Linked DNA regions of Homo sapiens: region 1 is linked to region 2. The links come from fine-mapping of genetic effects on gene expression. A gene starts in region 2. The other region holds a variant in brackets. All regions are shown on one strand. Distances are between the middles of the regions.

Region 1 (8,336 bases), 710 kb after region 2:
GCCTGATGGCTTACACCTGTTATCCCAGCACTTTGGGAGGCTGAGATGAGAGAATCACTTGAATCCAGGAGTTTGGGCCAGTCTGGGCAATATAGTGAGAATGCAACTCTATAAAAAAAATTTAAAAAGCTGGGTGTGGTAGGATTCACCTGTAGTCCCAGAAACTTGGAAGACTAGGTGGGAGGATTGCTTGAGCCCAGGCGGTAAAGACAGCAGTGAGCTATGATTGTGCCATTGCACTGCAGCCTAGGTGACGGAGTGAGACTCTATCTCTAAAATAAATGAATAAAATTGTGGTATAACATATGCAACTTTTACCATTTTGTGCATCTGAAAGTGTACAATTCAGTGACATTTTGTACATTTATCATGTTGTGCAATTATCACCACTACCTAGTTTCAGGGCTTTTTCAACACCTCAATTGGAAGCCTCATATCCATTCAGCAGTCACTCTCCATGCCCTCTCCTCTGCAGCCCTCGGAAACCTCTCATCTACTTTCTACCTCTGTCGATTGGCTTAGTCTGAACATTGCATATAAATGGAATTGTACAATATATGACCTTTCATGTCTGCTTCTTTCACTCAGCATGTTTTTAACGTTCATCCATATCACAGCATGGATAAGTTTTATTTTCTTTTTAGACGCTATCTAAAAAGAAAAAAAAATTATAAAAAACAAAAATAAAAAATTATATAGGATGGAGATCAGATGAGTCCTGCAAAGTTTATAATATTTACTATCTAGCAGTTTACATAGAAGCTTGCCTACCTCTGAATGATATGCAGGTACAGAGATGACATTTATCTTGGCACTTATAGAAAGACCTATAAATTGTATAAAGACATCATCATTGGATTTCCAGTAACAAGAAGCGGCAAGACATGACAGTGTGTCCAGGTGTTCAGGTGAAGTTTAGGGAAGGTCTTGTCTTGACGAGGTCGGATGTGAGACCCAGATGAGATAACCCCATTTCCCCTGCTGAAATTGCCTGAGAATTTCATTCCAGTTATTTGCGTAGGTTGATTCTTTCGGTGGGGGTGGGGTGGGTGAGGAGGTGAAGTGTCAGGGGAGTTCTATTGTGTATTTGCACAACTTGGCTTTCTTTTCACTTGGTGTGGGGTTTTGCTGTCTGAGGAATTTCATAGAATTTTGTGATGAGTATGCAGCATAGTGGTTTGAATCCTGCCAGGCCGAGGGTCATATCTCAGCTCTGCAACTCATTATCTATGACGCCTTGGGGCAGGTCCCATAACTCCCCAAGCCTCTGTTATATATTCCATGGGGTTGTGAGGTTCAGATGAAATAATGCATGCTGGCGGGAATGGTTACTGCTCATGGGATTTCCATGTGCTCCCCGTATTCACCAGACCCCCAGTAGTTAGATGGATCCATGCCAGGGTCCAGTGCTCTATAAGTGGAAGTCACTGACTTCACCTCTAGTCTACAGCTTTTGAGGGCTTGGGGATAACTATCTCATTCTCTCATCTCATGGTGCAGTAACTATGGGAGAATCCTTGCATTAAGATGGTAGAATTTCCATCATTCTAGGTCTTCGAGTGGCCATATGGAGCACACCGTACCCAGCCAACCCATTGTGGACATGGAATGTAAGAAATCAACCTTGGTTGCTAAGCTGCTGAGTCTCTGTGGTTAATTTGTTACTGCAGCATAACCTAGTCCATCCTGATGCATGCAGCATGCAAACCACTTATGTTGACCCTTAGTCATGGTAAGTGCTCCACAGATGTTGGTTACTTTTGGTAGGAAGATAGATTGCCTCTGAAAGTTTTGTTAGCTGATCTCATGATGCCAATGTTGCTATTTTGTAATTGGATAAATTGGACTTGTCTCTCCTTCCAGCAGGTGGGAGAGAAAGATGACTGAGAGACAATAAAGCACTATTATCTTCAGTTTGTGTCCTTGGATACCCTTGGTGGCAATGAACAATGTATGCTCCTCTGAGAAAACTGGACTTAAATGAGAATGGGAGGTGATACCAGAATTGGGAACGTCCAAGGCCCCAGGCATTCCCTGGTCTGGAGACAACTTTGAGTCCTTGGTGGGAAGATTCTCCAAGGGAACATAAATGCTTTTACTATCTAGTTTGTCTCTTTGAGAATTAAAACATTTTTTTTTCATTCCAGTAGCTTCTGGGATACAGTTTGTCTCTTTGAGAATTGCATACTAATTAATTTTAGGGGTCATCTGTACACATCTCTATATTCCTGAAACATGGTAGAAACAGCCAGCAGTCAGACAACAATCTACCATGACCACTAAAACATCCCCAAAGTGAAACACCAGATGTGACCCACTAGGTTTAGTGGGGATGGCTGGCTCGAGAGTTGATTATATTTATTATTGTCACTGTGGTGATTATGGCCACAACATTGTGATGCGTGTTGGTCTTCTTTTGGTGAGTTGCAGTTTGGAAGGAATAAATCCATTATTTTTTTGTTTGAGTCTCGCTCTGTCGCCCAGGCTGGAGTACAGTGATGCCATCTCAGCGTGCTGTAAACTCTGCCTCCCAGGTTCAAGTGCTTCCCCTGCCTCTATGGCCAGGCTGGTCTTGAACTCCTGACCTCAGGTGATCCACCTGCCTCAGCCTCCCAAAGTGCTGGGATTACAGGCGTGAGCCACCATGCCCGGCCCTATTATTCATTTAACCAATATCTATTGAACACATTGGGTGTGGTGGAGGATGAACTGCTGACTATGTTTTCAAGTTGTCCTAATACTCCACTGTGGGACACGCAGGCTTGTGGGTCCCAGAGCTCCAGAAGCATCTTCTGACCGCACCATCCTGACCCAGATTCTACTGAAAAATACGTGAGTCTAGCAGAGCCATCTCTGACACTTCCCTTCTTTTGAACGGCTGATCTGTCAGTCATGGGGAGCTCTTATGAAAGTGTAGTGTGTTTTGTGAAACTTGAGGTTGGTCAAAGAATACCATTAAACTTTGTTAAGAAATCTACATATTGATGACATAGGCAGTGGGGTGGAGGTGGGAAAATTCCCAAATACATTTTAGGAATTATCTCAGAAGGAGGTAATAGTCAGAACTCTTGGTTGCCAGTGACAGAAACTCATCTTACTAGTGTGGAGTACAAAAGGGGTCATGTTTTTGTCTGCACTCCCCAACCCCAAGCAGATCCTGAAAGAGGGACAGGATTGCAAGTGGATTATTTAGGAGATGATTCCAGGGAACACCAATAGGGGAGTGAGGAACTGATTCATGGAAAGGCAGGAGGCCACACAGGGGCCTTCAATGAGCAGCTTACCACTCCAGGCAACTAGGATTTGACCCCACTGGGGACCTCTGGGAGGTGATGTGGAATGCATTTCAAAGTTGTTCCATCCAGGGGGCAAAGATATTGAAGCATTTATAGCCTAGCTCCCATCCGTCACTGGCTGAGGACAGGTCCCAGGGCATCAACTCTCTGGCTTTTCTTTTTTCTTTTTTTTTTTGAGACATAGTCTTGCTCTGTTACCCAGGCTGGACTGCAATGGCATGATCTCGGCTCACTGCAACATCTGCCTCCCAGGTTCAAACGATTCTCTTGCCTCAGCTTCCTGAGTAGTTGGGATTACAGGTGCCTGCCACCATGCCCTGCTATTTTTTTTATTTTTTGTAGAGACGGAGATTTGCCATGTTGATCAGTCTGGTCTCAAACTCCTGACCTCGTGATCCACCTGCTTCGGCCTCCCAGTGTTGGGATTACAGGAGTGAACCACTGTACCTGGCTTCTGTGGCTTTTCTGACATAATCCATGCCTGACTTTGAGAAAGCCCTCAGGTGAAAGTCTTGGTTGTATGTAGTAGCAAGCATGTACTAGAATGATAAAAACCAAGGGGTTTACCATAAGATCTCTCTCTCTATCTCTGTCTCTAGCTTTGTCTGCATACTGGCTTAATTTCTTCTTACTCAAGCTTTTTCTCCATAAGGTGAGAAACGTGGCCACAAAAGCTCCTATATTTCTCACTACACACAGTTCCTGTCATCACGGAGAATGATTAAATTGGTCTAGTTACAGTTTGGAAAAATATTCAAGGGAAGAATTCTGATTGGCCAATTTAGGCCAGATTCTCATCCCTGGACCAATCAACTGAGGCCAGAGGGGTGGAGTCATGTAAGAATATGGCAGCCCCTATGA[G/A]AGCCACGTGACTGGAGTAGGAAGTGTGAGTCTCTATAGAGGGGAGGGCTGCTAGGCTGAAAAGGCAATAGATGTCTGCAGTGAAAGGAATAGATCAGGAGATACATTCTGTTAAACCTGTTAATTATTTTTGAAAAAAGAGAAACTTTCAATATACAGTTATAGTATAAGTAAGCGGGTGGCTCACGCCTATAATCCCAGCACTTTGGGAGGCTGAGGTGGGCAGATCAGAGGTCAGGAGTTCGAGACCAACATGACCAACATGGTGAAACCCCGTCTTGTGTGCCTGTAATCCCAGCTACTCAGGAAGCTGAGGCAGGAGAATCACTTGAACCCAGAAGGCGGAGGTTGCAGTGAGCTGAGATCATGCCACTGCCCTCCAGCCTGGGCAACAGAGTGAGACTCGGTCTCAAAAAAAAAAAAAAAGTTACATTGTGGTTCCCACAGCATGATTTATCAGAAAGGAAAAACTTAAAATATGCGTATTTTCTATGCACAGGCTACTGCTATGAATTCAAATTCTTAAATTCCAAAGATTAACTAAAATGTTTCTCAAGACACATAAACTGTTAGAATCTGCTTATAATGAGGCTGAAGTTGAGTAAGAAGAGAACTGGCATTTGGGACCCTACTTTTCTTCTGTCGAGTACTGTCAAGTTTTGGTTCTGCCTGGAAGTAGATGCACCTCAAGGGAGGGTTACATGTAAAGTTGTGTGTGTGTGTGTGTGTGTGTGTGTGTGTGTGTATGGTAGTTTCCAAAGATGGGTACAACTTTCTGCAAATGCTCGTGCAGTGTAATCGAACCAATCTTTCCTTTAAGAGGTAGAGTTTATATTTCTCTACATAAATCTGGGCTGCCTATGACTTGCTTTGGCCAGTGGAATGCTGCCAAAGTGATGGTGACCAACTTCTAGCCGTGAAAGGAAAATAAACCTTGGGTCCCCAAGATCACTAAGCTAGGCTGGGCTCGGTGGCTCACACCTGTAATCCCAGCACTTTTGGGAAGCTGAGGCAGGCGGATCACCTGAGGTCAGGAGTTCCCAGCACTTTGGGAAGCTGAGGCGGGCAGATCACCTGAGGTCAGGAGTTCAAGACCAGCCTGGCCAACATGACAAAACCCCGTCTCTACTAAAATATATGAAAATTAGCCAGGCGTGGTGGCAGGCGCCTGTAATCCCAGCTACTTGGGATGCTGAGGCAGGGAAATTGCTTGAACACTGGAGTTGGAGGTTGCAGTAAGCCGAGATGGTACCACTGCACTCCAGCCTGCGCAACAGAGCGAGACTCTGTCCCCCCCAACAAAAAAAAGTTACTAAGCTAAAGAGAAAAGTCAAGCTGGGAACTGCTTAGGGGAAACCTGCCTCCCATTCTATTCAGTTACCCCTTTGCTCACTGAGATAAATGTATATCTGATTGCCTCATTTGGAGAGGCTAATCAGGAACTCAAAAGAATGCAACCATTTGTCTCTTAACTACCTATGACCTGGAAGCCCCTACCCCTTGTCTCACCATCACCTTCACCTGGACTTGTCCCGACTTTCCAGACTGAACCAATGTACATCTTACACATATTGATTGATGTCTCATGTCTCTCTAAAATGTATCAAACCAAGCTGTGTCCCCACCACCTTAGGCACATATTGTCAGGACCTCCTGAGGCTGTGTCAGGCGTGCGTCCTCAACCTTGGCAAAATAAACTTTCTCAATTAACTGAGACCTCAGATTTTTGGGGTGCATATAGTCTTAGGCCTTGAGAGCCCTCTCCTAGTTTCTATATTTTTGCCCTCTTGGATGCTGGCACCAAGCAAACCTTGGCTATCCTGCTTAAAGGGCCATTTGGAGAGGGGTTCTGCAGGGCGAGGGGCCACATGGAGGAAAACAAGTTTCCCCAGCTGACAGCCAGCACCAACTGCCAGGCACATGCATGAGGTCGTCCTGGATGTTCCACCCAGCTGGCCCTCCAGCTGCAGGTAGCCACACAAATGAGCCCCGGTTAAAACAGCCAGGAAGTCCCCATGCAACTCACAGGGTCATGAGCAATAATGACTTGAGGTGGTTTAAAGTTTCTAATTTTAGGTGCAATAGGTAACTGAAACAGCCCACAAGGGTTTGAGCCTGTGGAGGGTGCATTTCCCACCTGCTGAAGCTTCTCAATTCCCAGGATTCAATGCGGATAAGACTCTTGTTCTCAGTGTCCTTGATGGAAATGGCAATGAACTTTTTGCAGATTGGACCATCTCAGGGGAATCCCAAAGATCGGAAACTATTTTCTTTCTCAGAATCTTCCACACAACATTGAGCCTTAGGAATTTCTAAGAAGGATCTGGAATGAAAAAAAATCTTTTGAAAAGGTATTTGTATAGCTTCACTTCAGCAAGATTCATGGTGGGTGTTAGACTAAGTGCTGGTGTTAAGCCAAACCATGTTTTTCAAAGACTCATCTGGCCTCAAGGTTGGCAGGATCAGAGTGGCCTCCCAGGATCTACCACATCCTCAAAAGAGTTGGTTCAACTGGCATGTACCCAGATCTCTTTGAGCTAGTATGATACTCCCTTGAGTCAAAGGCTGCCACATCACATCTCCTTTAAGTCTCCCTAAGTACGACCCCAGAAGTATTGACAAAATAGTGCTATTCCTGAAGATTTCAGGAGGACATAAATGAAGAGATTAAACTGCAAGGTACCAAAACTTCCATCTTTGCTAAAGACCCTCATCCAGGCTGGGCACGGTGACTCACGCCTGTAATCCCAGCGCTTTGGGAGGCCAAGGCGGGCGGATCACCTGAGGTCGGGAGTTCAAGACCAGCCTGACCAACATGGAGAAACCCCATCTCTATGAAAAATACACAATTAGCCGGGCGTGGTGGCACATGCCTGTAATCCCAGCTACTAGGGAGGCTGAGGAAGGAGAATCGCTTGAACCTGGGAGGCGTAGGTTGCAGTGAGCTGAGATCGTGCCATTGCACTCCAGCCTGGGCAACAAGAGTAAAACTCCATCTCAAAAACAAACAAAAAGCCCTTATCCAATGGTCATGCCACTCTATCTGGCCATGTAATTTCTCCTCCTGGCTTTCTGTAGCAACAGCCTTCTGAGGAACCTCACTCTGCCTTTCAAAACCCCTTCAACTTGTACCCTTCATCAGCAAAGTACTTAGCTCAACATGTATGCGTCTGGGGGAACTCATCCACATGCTATTTAAGGATATTTCCAGCAACATCATCTTCACTACCCCAGGATGGCATTTTAGAGTGGATTACGTGCCTGCCGGATGTGTTGTAGTTGAACGAGTTAGAGAAAATGCCACACTTTGAGACGAATTAAGAGTCTGTTCATTTAGCCGGTGGCTAAGAAATGGCTAACATTTAAAGTTCTCTCGGCCTCGAAGAAGGGGCTAGATTTTCTTTTATACTTTGGTTTAGAAAGGGGAGGGGGATTTTTTACAAAAGTAGGAATTTTACAGAAGTAGACAAAAAAGTTAAAAGGATAAATTGTTACAGGAAAGTAAACAGTTCTAGGTCTAGGGGCTTTTAGACTATTATGAGGTGACAGATGCGGGGCTTTGGGCGTTATCAATTGGACGAATTCCTGGGAACTGCGGATATTGCTCGCCACAGTATCTTATCAGTTAATTGCATTCTTGGATGTGCTGGGAGTCAGCTTGCACAAGTTAAGTCCTTGAGGAAGGGGCTGCCAGTGAAAGAGCCAAGATGGAGTCTGTCTGGCTCTCTTAGCTAAGGGAGAGTCAGTTCAGGTTGAAACAAGGCTAGGTGATTAAAAGAAAGGGAGAGTCTAAGAACAGGGTTAGTAAAAACAAGGTTGGGCATTACATTCCTCACTTGTGTTTTTGGGGAGTCAAATCGTTGATTCTTCAGTTATAACAAGGGGGTTATATTGAGTCTTAAGATACATAAGTTTGACAGAAGCTATGCGTTGTTTTACAAAATTAAGAAACTAATTTAATATACAAGGTCCAAAAATTAGACTTAATACTAGGATGGGGAGGGGGTCTGGCTAACTTAGTAATTAGAATAGTTAGCTCTGGGTTCTAGTTGAACATGCTTTGATACTAGCGGATGTTATTTTCTTGTTCTTGTTGGCGCTTATCTAGATTTTCTTGCACTTTCTGGAGTGTATCTTTTATGACTAAGAATGGTGGAGGAACAGTTAAATCAACTTTGT
Region 2 (8,336 bases):
TCATACTATTTTTCTATGAAACTGCTTTCCAATTTTAGAAAAAGTGAAGACAGATTATTCAAACTTTTTTGAATTTCAAAAAATAAAAAGGCGCATAGTGAAAAGTTTCCTTCCCACCTATATTCCCCATCCACTCAGTTCCCATCATCTTCCCCAATCAGGTAACCATTGTTATTGGTTCCTCCTTTCACCTTCCAGGGAATCTGCATGCATCAGCCATTACCTCCTCTTTCAAAACACAAGAATGGGAGCACGCAATGCACACTTTCCTACACTTTGCTCTTGTAATTTTGTTTTGTTTTTTTGAGACAGGGTCTCACTCTGTTGCCCAGACTGGAATGCAGTGGCGCAATCTCACTCACCGCAACCTGCACCTCCCAGGCTCAAGCGATTCTCCTGCCTCAGCCTCCCGCGTAGCTGAGATTACAGGCACGCACCACCACTCCCGGCTAATTTTTGTATTTTTTTAGTAGAAACGGAGTTTCACCATGCTGCCCAGGCTGGTCTTGAATTCCTGACCTCAAATGATCCACCCGCCTCGGCCTCCCAAAGTGCTAGGATTATAGGTGAGAGCCGCCGCGCCCGGCCTGCTCTTGTAACTTAAGATATTTTGGAGATCTCTCCATGTCAACTAAGAAAAGAGCTTCCTCGTTCCTTTCTACAACTTTACAACCTCATTAACCATCTGGGCATGGATTTATCTGATAAGTCTCTTGCTTGCTGATGGACACTCAAGGCAATAAATAATCTTGTACCTATGTTATCTCACACGTGTACAAATATATCTGCAGGTTAAATTCCTAGAACTGGATTGCTGGGTCAAAGGATTTACACGCCTGTAATTTTTAAAGCTACTGCCTAAAGCACCTGTATCTATCAGGGTCCACCCAGAGAAACAGAGACATCCAGAGAAACCATCCCTTTAAGAATCTGATATAGAGGGAATTTAATATAAGGAATTAGTGACAGGGGTGATGGAAAAACTGAAAAGCCAAACAGGAAATGATAATACAAAGATTATCAAGAGCAAGCTGCTGTTACCACTTCTCAAATAGAGGGTAAAAGGGAGGAGGTATTTCCAAGACTCAAAGGCTAGGACCAAGGGGCAGGAGCTGGAGCCAAAAGGAGACAAGGTACCTGCCAGAGACACTCCCTGAGGCAGGCCTAAGGGAAATAACCTGTTTTTGTCCTTCTTCCTGCCATTCCTCCTGCCAGTGGCTCCCAGTGGCCAATCCCAGCCGGAAGCCAGCTGACCAAGGGCCTGGGAAATGTTGCCTGCAGGGGTGAGTCCCTGCAGGGAAAGGGCAAGAAACGGATCTGAGCCAACAGGACATGGGCTGACCCTGCCTGTGGCTACTTTACACTCTTACCCGTAAATGTTTGAAACGACCTTGCCGTTCAAATATTTCAAACTTGAAACAGACTTTGTATACTTGGGGGTTATCACCTGTCTGAAGGTGAAAGGTGGGAGCTCAATCTAGTCTTAATTTGCATGTATTTTATTATGAACAAGGCTCAGCATCTCTTCACCTGAAGCACAGACACCTACATTGATCAGGGAGTGAAGGGGTCAGAGAGAAGAATGCCAATTATAGTTAATTCACCTCATCTGCCAGGGATGGTCCATTCAGGACCATCAATCAGACAAATGCCCAAACAGGACACGAAGACAATCCCAATGAGCCAAACTAGCCAGCTACCCTCCAATTAGCTCAAGAACTGTTCTCGAAAAACTGAAAGGCAACAAAGTCCCATAGGAATTAAAAACGACTTAACTACACTCTGCACACACTGTAAGGAACAATGTGTTCTTGTAATCTTGTGCCCCCCACTCGCTCCTCTTGTAACTGCCTTCCAGCCATTCATGCCACCATCCTCTCTCTCCTTATCTTGCATTGAAAGAACAATACAGTGGACAAAAAGCTAAATTAACTTATAAAAATAGCAAGTAGGAATCAATTTTTCAAGTCTTTTAACCTGACCATTAACAAAAAAAAGACCTTTTCAATTATCTTTGGCTTCTACCATAACTACTGTTTGAATAGATTATTTACCCTATCTTTTAAACAAGCTTTAACTGACTCCCCCAGATACAGTTCAACATTATGTACTACACTCTAAAAATATACCAAAAAATGTTATGCTTTATAATCTGCTGGCAGCTGAAACGGTTTTCTTTAAAAGAGCTCAACTTTATTTTTTTAAACATGAATTTTAAAGCATTTAAAAATCTAAAAGGTATTAACTGTAAAGAGGTATGTTAACTTCAAAACTTACAACAGCCAAGAGTTAAATGTAAGCACATAAAGTTTATACAATAATTACAATATCACTCATATTTCAAAACTTTGCTTTTCACCTGTTTCAAAAATAAATATCCTAATATTGCCAAAAATATTTTTAAGTGTCTGTCACAAAGCAAGGGAGAAAGCTAGTCATAAACTAAATCAATAAAGGTTAAAAGTTATTTTCCAGCACCTAACATGCTGGCTAGCATTTTGATGGGCAATCAATAAATAAATCTTCATTGTTGAATGTTCCAGTGAGATGAATTAAATGATACACTTAAAACATTCACGTCTTTGATGGTTTTTTTCCAATCTGAAATACACACTTATTCCAGAAACCTGGAAAATATAAAAAGAAAATAAAATAATCCATAATGTCACCAATGTTTATGTTGTTTAAACCATGATGTATAAAACTGCTTATTTTAATGGTTGTAAAATACTTCAATAAACTTCCCATAATTTACCTCACCATGCCCCTGCTGTTGGCGTTGCTGTTTCCAATTTTTTGCTATTTTAAACAGCATAATACACATCTTTATACGTGAGGGGTTTATTTCAAGGTTGCTTCCCTGTGATATATTCCCAGAAGAGATACTAACAACCCAAGGACAATTTTAAGACTTTTGATACTTCATATCATCCTTTGTTATAGTACTCAAGACCTGCAAATTGCTGGAGCACATTAAAGCCTCCTCTTTTCCTCTTTATTCCTGCTTTAATCTTCAAGTCTACATTTCTTTACTCACAGAGCCCAAAGCACCTTACAAACAAAACTGCCAAGCCAGCTAGCTGCCTTGACGCTAATGTCCAACGTCTGCATATTACAGTTGTCTTTCTTTTCTAACAAGGGAAAACAGCTATGCCCAAATTGTGACAGGCAGGAAACACGACATCCACCGGGAACCCATTCCTTAGGATCTCATGGCTCCAGACAGCCTGACTGTAGGAGGGTTCGCAACTGGGCGCCTTCGTTCCACAGCGCTCCCATCAACACACCCACTCGGTGCCACAGTGCTACCCCTAGCTTCAACTATAAGAACTGAACTCGCCAAATGCCATGACGGGTGCCAACTTCCCACCATCCTGGCTGCATCGCGTCTTTCAGCAAAAAAACATCTCCCTCTGAGCAGCACTTGAATTCTGGAAGGCACCTTGATGATGAACCACTTCATCCTGAAGCATTCAATACTGCTGATTCTTACAGGCAGCTGCACCGGCAGCCTGTAATTAAGATTTCTCTAAACTGCTCCCTTATTACATGGGGTTCTGATGATTCTGATGATTTCTCTGTCAGCTCAAAGGAGATCTTCAGGAAAAAAAAAAAAAGTCTAGAGAACCTCAACTTCGGCTGTTCCTGTAAAAACACGGGCATTAACCCTTTGCTTTCCAAAGCGAACACCCACTCCATACAGAGGCACGTTCCTCTGTTTTTAAAATCTAATTCCCAGCATGACCCAGCAGTCATTTGTATTCCACTAAATAATTTCCAACAAACACGATTCCTCCAGCAAGAGGAAACCGAACGTCAGACACAGACCACCTGGGCCACGACGCGCATCGACCCGACCCACTCGGGAGCACACCTGGCTCCGGGCACACCTGGCTCTCCGGTCTTGCCTCTGTGCTGGGTGCAGCTCGTGTCTCCCACCCTCGGCTCCACGGAGTTTTTTGCTCAATCTGTCGCGTCTGCCGTTTCCTAAAACGTCTACCCTGAACTGAACTCCAGCTGGCCCCCTCCCCGTTCGAGCAAATCCAGCGACCGTTTCTGACCCAAAGCCAAGCAGACTGTCACGCTTTCCAACCGTTTCCCCTGCCCTCCCGTCCTGTACACTCGAGGAGCCTCCAGTGCAAAACTTTCCCCTCCCGGTTTCCCACCGGCTCAGCCGCTTCCGCCCACCTGAGCTGAAAGGGGGCGTCCGAAACGCCGGGCTCCGGAGGGCATGAACGCCCTTGGCGACAAGATGCGGGGAAGGTCGCCCCGCAAGGTCCCCCGCCCCAGAGGAGCGACACCCAAACCCCGGCCCGAGACTCCGGGGCGACCCCAGCCCGCGGCAGCCCCGGCCTGGTACCCAGACCCTCGCCAGCGCCGAACGGCGACCCCGGCCCGCCCCCTCCCTCGGCCCCCGGAGACCCAGCCTCGGCCCTGGCCCGGCGTGCCTCAGGCCTCCAGCGGACGCCGCTGCCGCTGCCCCCGACCCCGTCTCCTCCGGCGAACCCCGGCCCAGCGCCGCGCCCTCGACCCCCAGCCCCCGGCCCCCGACCCCAGGCCGCCGGCGAGCCCACCACACCTCCGACACTCACCGCCACCACCCTCGCCGCCGCCGTCTTCATCCATCTTGAGGCCACTCCCGCAGCCGGCGAGCCGGGGGCCGGCAGCAGAGGGGCCGCGGGCTGGGGACGCCGCCGGAGGGAGCGCGCAGGCGACCGGGCGGCTCCTCAGCGCGCGGCCCGGGTCGCGGCCGGGCCTCCTCCCGCCGGGCGGGGCCTCGCTGGTCGGCGTGCCGTCACGTGACCCATGCCCCGCCTCTGCCCGCGGTGGGCGGGGCGTGAGGCCGCGCAGCCCCGCCCTCGGGAACCGGCCGGGCCGGCGGCGTCTGCGCTGGGGAAGGCTGTAGACCTGGCCCCTGAAGTGCAGGCCGATCCGGTGTGCGTGGAGCGAAGCCTCCTCGCCCTCAGCATTCCAGTAGCCTGCGGACGGGCGTGGGGCCCCGGACACTGGAACGCCACACTCTGCAAAACCCAGTGGCCAGGGGTGCAACTTGCACGTGCACTCGGGGTAAAAGATCAAGAAACGAATGCATTCAGAAGTCAGGCCTGGCCAGGCTCGGTGGCTCACACCTGTATTCCAATACTTTGAGAGGCTGAGGTGGGAGGATCGCTGGAGAACAAAAGTTGGAGACCAGCCCCGATAACATAGCGACCCAGGCATGGTGGCATGTGCCTGTAGTTCCAGCTACTGGGGAGGCTGAGGTGGGAGGTCACGTCACTTGAGCCCAGTAGGTAGAGGCTGCAGTGAGTTATTATTGCACCACTGCACTCCAGTCTGGGTGACAGAGTGAGACCCTGTCTCAAAAAAAAAAAGAACAAGGTCAGGCCTTCTCCTTCCTAAGACATGCATGTCAGAAGAATTCCAGCCTTTCAGCTGTCTTATATTTAATGGAGCCTCTCCTCCTTCCCTCCTGGTGAGTGCATTTTTAAATTAACAAAATGCAGGGCTTGTAAATGAATGTGGTCATGAGGTTGGAACGGAATCCCGATTCAACACACCTGGGGCTCAGCTCTCAAAGGGCATTGTAGGGGTTGGCCAATCTGGCGGCTGATGCCCTTGGAGTTTAGCGCCAGTCTTCCTTGGAGAGCTGCCAGCTGTCCTGGATTTATGATGCAGGAGGAGCTCTGAATTCAGTTTCCCTTGGGCACAGCCAGGGTCCTCAGCACAGGCCTCCTGGGCAGAAGGCCTCCCCTGGCCCCTGCTCCACATCGATGGATCTCCTCTCTCACTCCCCATATCTCTCTTCCAGTAACTCCTGAAGCATTGCTTGTGGCCCCTCCCAAGCCTTTCTGTTGGAACTCAATCGCATTAAAGAAAAGCAAACATTGTAATGGAGGAGATAGCTCATCTCTAATATAATTTTCCAGCAACTGTTTTATATTTACAAGCTGTCCATTGAACCAAAGGATCCTTCCGTTGTCATCTATCAAAGTGGACAATTTCACCTTTTGGTTCAAGGTTGCGGGATGATTTCAAAGTTCAATCTTCTAATAACCTCAAGAATTGAACACCAAGCATTCTCATGCAACCAAACCCACGAGGGACACTTTTTTTTTGAGACAGGGTCTCGCTCTATTGCCCAGTCTGGCATGCAGTGTCTCGAGTGATCCTCACACTTCAGCCTCCCAAATAGCTGGGACCATAGGTACATGCCACCATGCATCGGTTAATTTTTGTATTCTTTTTTAGAGACGAGATCTTGCCATGTTTGCCCATGCTTGTCTCAAACTTCTGGACTCAAGCGATCCTCCCACCTTGACCTCCCGAAGTGCTGGGATTACAGGCATGAGCCACCACACCCAGCCAAGGGACACTGCTGCGTGCAAAGGTGTTTGACAGCTTGAGTGACAAAGAGGCACCAGAAAAGGGGTCTGGGAGTCAGGAGATGTAGGGTTCAACTCCCAACCCCCAGACTCGGCTTCCTGATCTTGTTCCCGTCAGCTTTGTCATCTTGGAGATAAGAGCATCGTTACTGAGAAAAAATGACAGCATTACTTTGAACTTGATAATGAGATATGCAGAGCTTTGAACTCAAAGATACTATCAATTATAAATGCTTTTTCATGTCAATCTTAATTCTTTAGGTGTCTTAGAATGTGATCCACAGGTGCTTTTCTCAGAGTTTTAATCTGAAAGTGGCTTCTCTGATCTCCATCTAATCTAATTTTCATCAGACTAAAGCACAGCCCAGTTATATAAGGAGGATATTACATTATCCCCATGGTTTAGCCTGGGCTTGCATTTCAACAAATTCTGCAAAAATGTTGGGGGGGATAAAGGCTTTGGGTGTCATTTCTGTGCTTTAATGGGGAAATTGGAAGACTTCAAAATCTTCACAACTCGAAGGAATTAATATCTAATGGAAAAATTACATATTTTCAAAAAGAAGTGCTTTCCAGCATCTCTCAAATCCCACCAAGATAGCAATGATCTAATCTGCTTACATACGTATTATCTCTACATATAGGAACTTTAAGTATTTTAGTTACTCACTAAGATAGGCACTCACTTTATGCATAGTTTATGAGTGGTTTGCTCAGATGTTGAAAGTTTTATAAGTGAATTTGTGAGGAAAATAATTCATGCAGCAGGCATTGCTGCAGAATAACAAGTATTAAACCCAATTATTAAATCATTGCAATCATTTGGTCAGATGATAAATATTTAGGCACCTCCTGTATTCCAGACACTGTTCTAGGTGCTGGGAAAATGATGAAAAAGGTAAATTCAGTCCCCAGGTTTTGTTTTTGTTTTTGTTTTTGTTTTTGTTTTTGTTTTTTGACACAGAGTCTCACTCTGTCGCCCAGGCTGGAGTGTAGTGGCGCTATCTTGGCTCACTGCAAGCTCTGCCTCCCGGGTTCTAGCCATTCTCCTGCCTCAGCCTCCCGAGTAGCTAGGACTACAGGCGCCCGCCACCATGCCCAGATAATTTTTTGTATTTTTAGTAGAGACGGGGTTTCACCATATTAGCCAGGATGGTCTCGATCTCCTGACCTCGTGATCCACCCATCTCAGCCTCCCAAAGTGCTGGGATTATAGGCGTAAACCACCGCACCCGGCCCAGTCCCCAGGCTTATGGAACGGATGGCCTAGAAGGAATACAGCCATTAAGCAAATAATTATGTAATTGTAATTTTGATATCTGACTCTGTAGACTTTCTCATAGTATTTGCTGTTTCGTGTGAATTGGCTTTGCAGCCTTAAAACTGCTTTAGGGGCGGGGCGCAGTGGCTCATACCTGTAATCCCAGCACTTTGGGAGGCTGAGGCGGGCAGATCATGAGGTCAAGAGTTCAAGACCAGCCTGGCCAACATGATGAAACCCCATCTCTACCAAAAATATAAAAAATTAGCCGGGCATGGCCAGGCACGATGGCTCATGCCTATAATCCTAGCAGTTTGGGAGGCCGAGGCAGGCAGATCACTTGAGGTCAGGAGTTCGAGATCAGCCTGGCCAACATGGTGAAACCCTGTCTCTACTAAACTACAAAAATTAGCCAGGCACGGTGGCGGGCGCCTGTAACCCCAGCTATTCAGGAAGCTGAGGCAGGAAAATCACTTGAACCCAGGAGGCAGAGGTTGCAGTGAGCCGAGATCACGCCACTGCACTCCAGCATGGGCGACAGGAGCGAGACTCCGTCTCAAAAAAAAAAAAAAAAAATTGTAATTTTGACATCTGACTCTGTAGACTTTCTCATAGTATTTGCTATTTCATGTGAATTGGCTTTGCAGACTTAAAACTGCTTCAGGGCTGGGCGGTGGCTCATGCCTGTAATC

Alleles and levels. Positions count from the first base shown, and alleles are read on the strand shown. Sizes are in standard deviations (SD) of each study's normalised expression.
For the expression in lung of the gene that starts at base 4,743 in region 2, allele A in region 1 goes with a lower level than allele G (moderate effect, 0.70 SD a copy in GTEx).

What was found.
Region 1: its variant is fine-mapped to the expression of CYTH3 in lung (GTEx, PIP above 0.99).

Annotation. Positions count from the first base shown.
Region 1 is chr7:6,980,931-6,989,266 of GRCh38, forward strand. It overlaps LOC107986763 (a long non-coding RNA gene), which reads right to left and starts at 6,653. Exons shown (of 3, transcript XR_001745073.1): 1 at 6,295-6,653. The variant G/A (reference allele first, on the strand shown) is at 4,158.
Region 2 is chr7:6,267,882-6,276,217 of GRCh38, forward strand. It overlaps CYTH3 (cytohesin 3), which reads right to left and starts at 4,743. Exons shown (of 13, transcript NM_004227.4): 1 at 4,593-4,743. The coding sequence starts at 4,626. RefSeq lists enhancers at 3,358-4,080, 4,081-4,802 and silencers at 4,121-4,290, 4,611-4,970.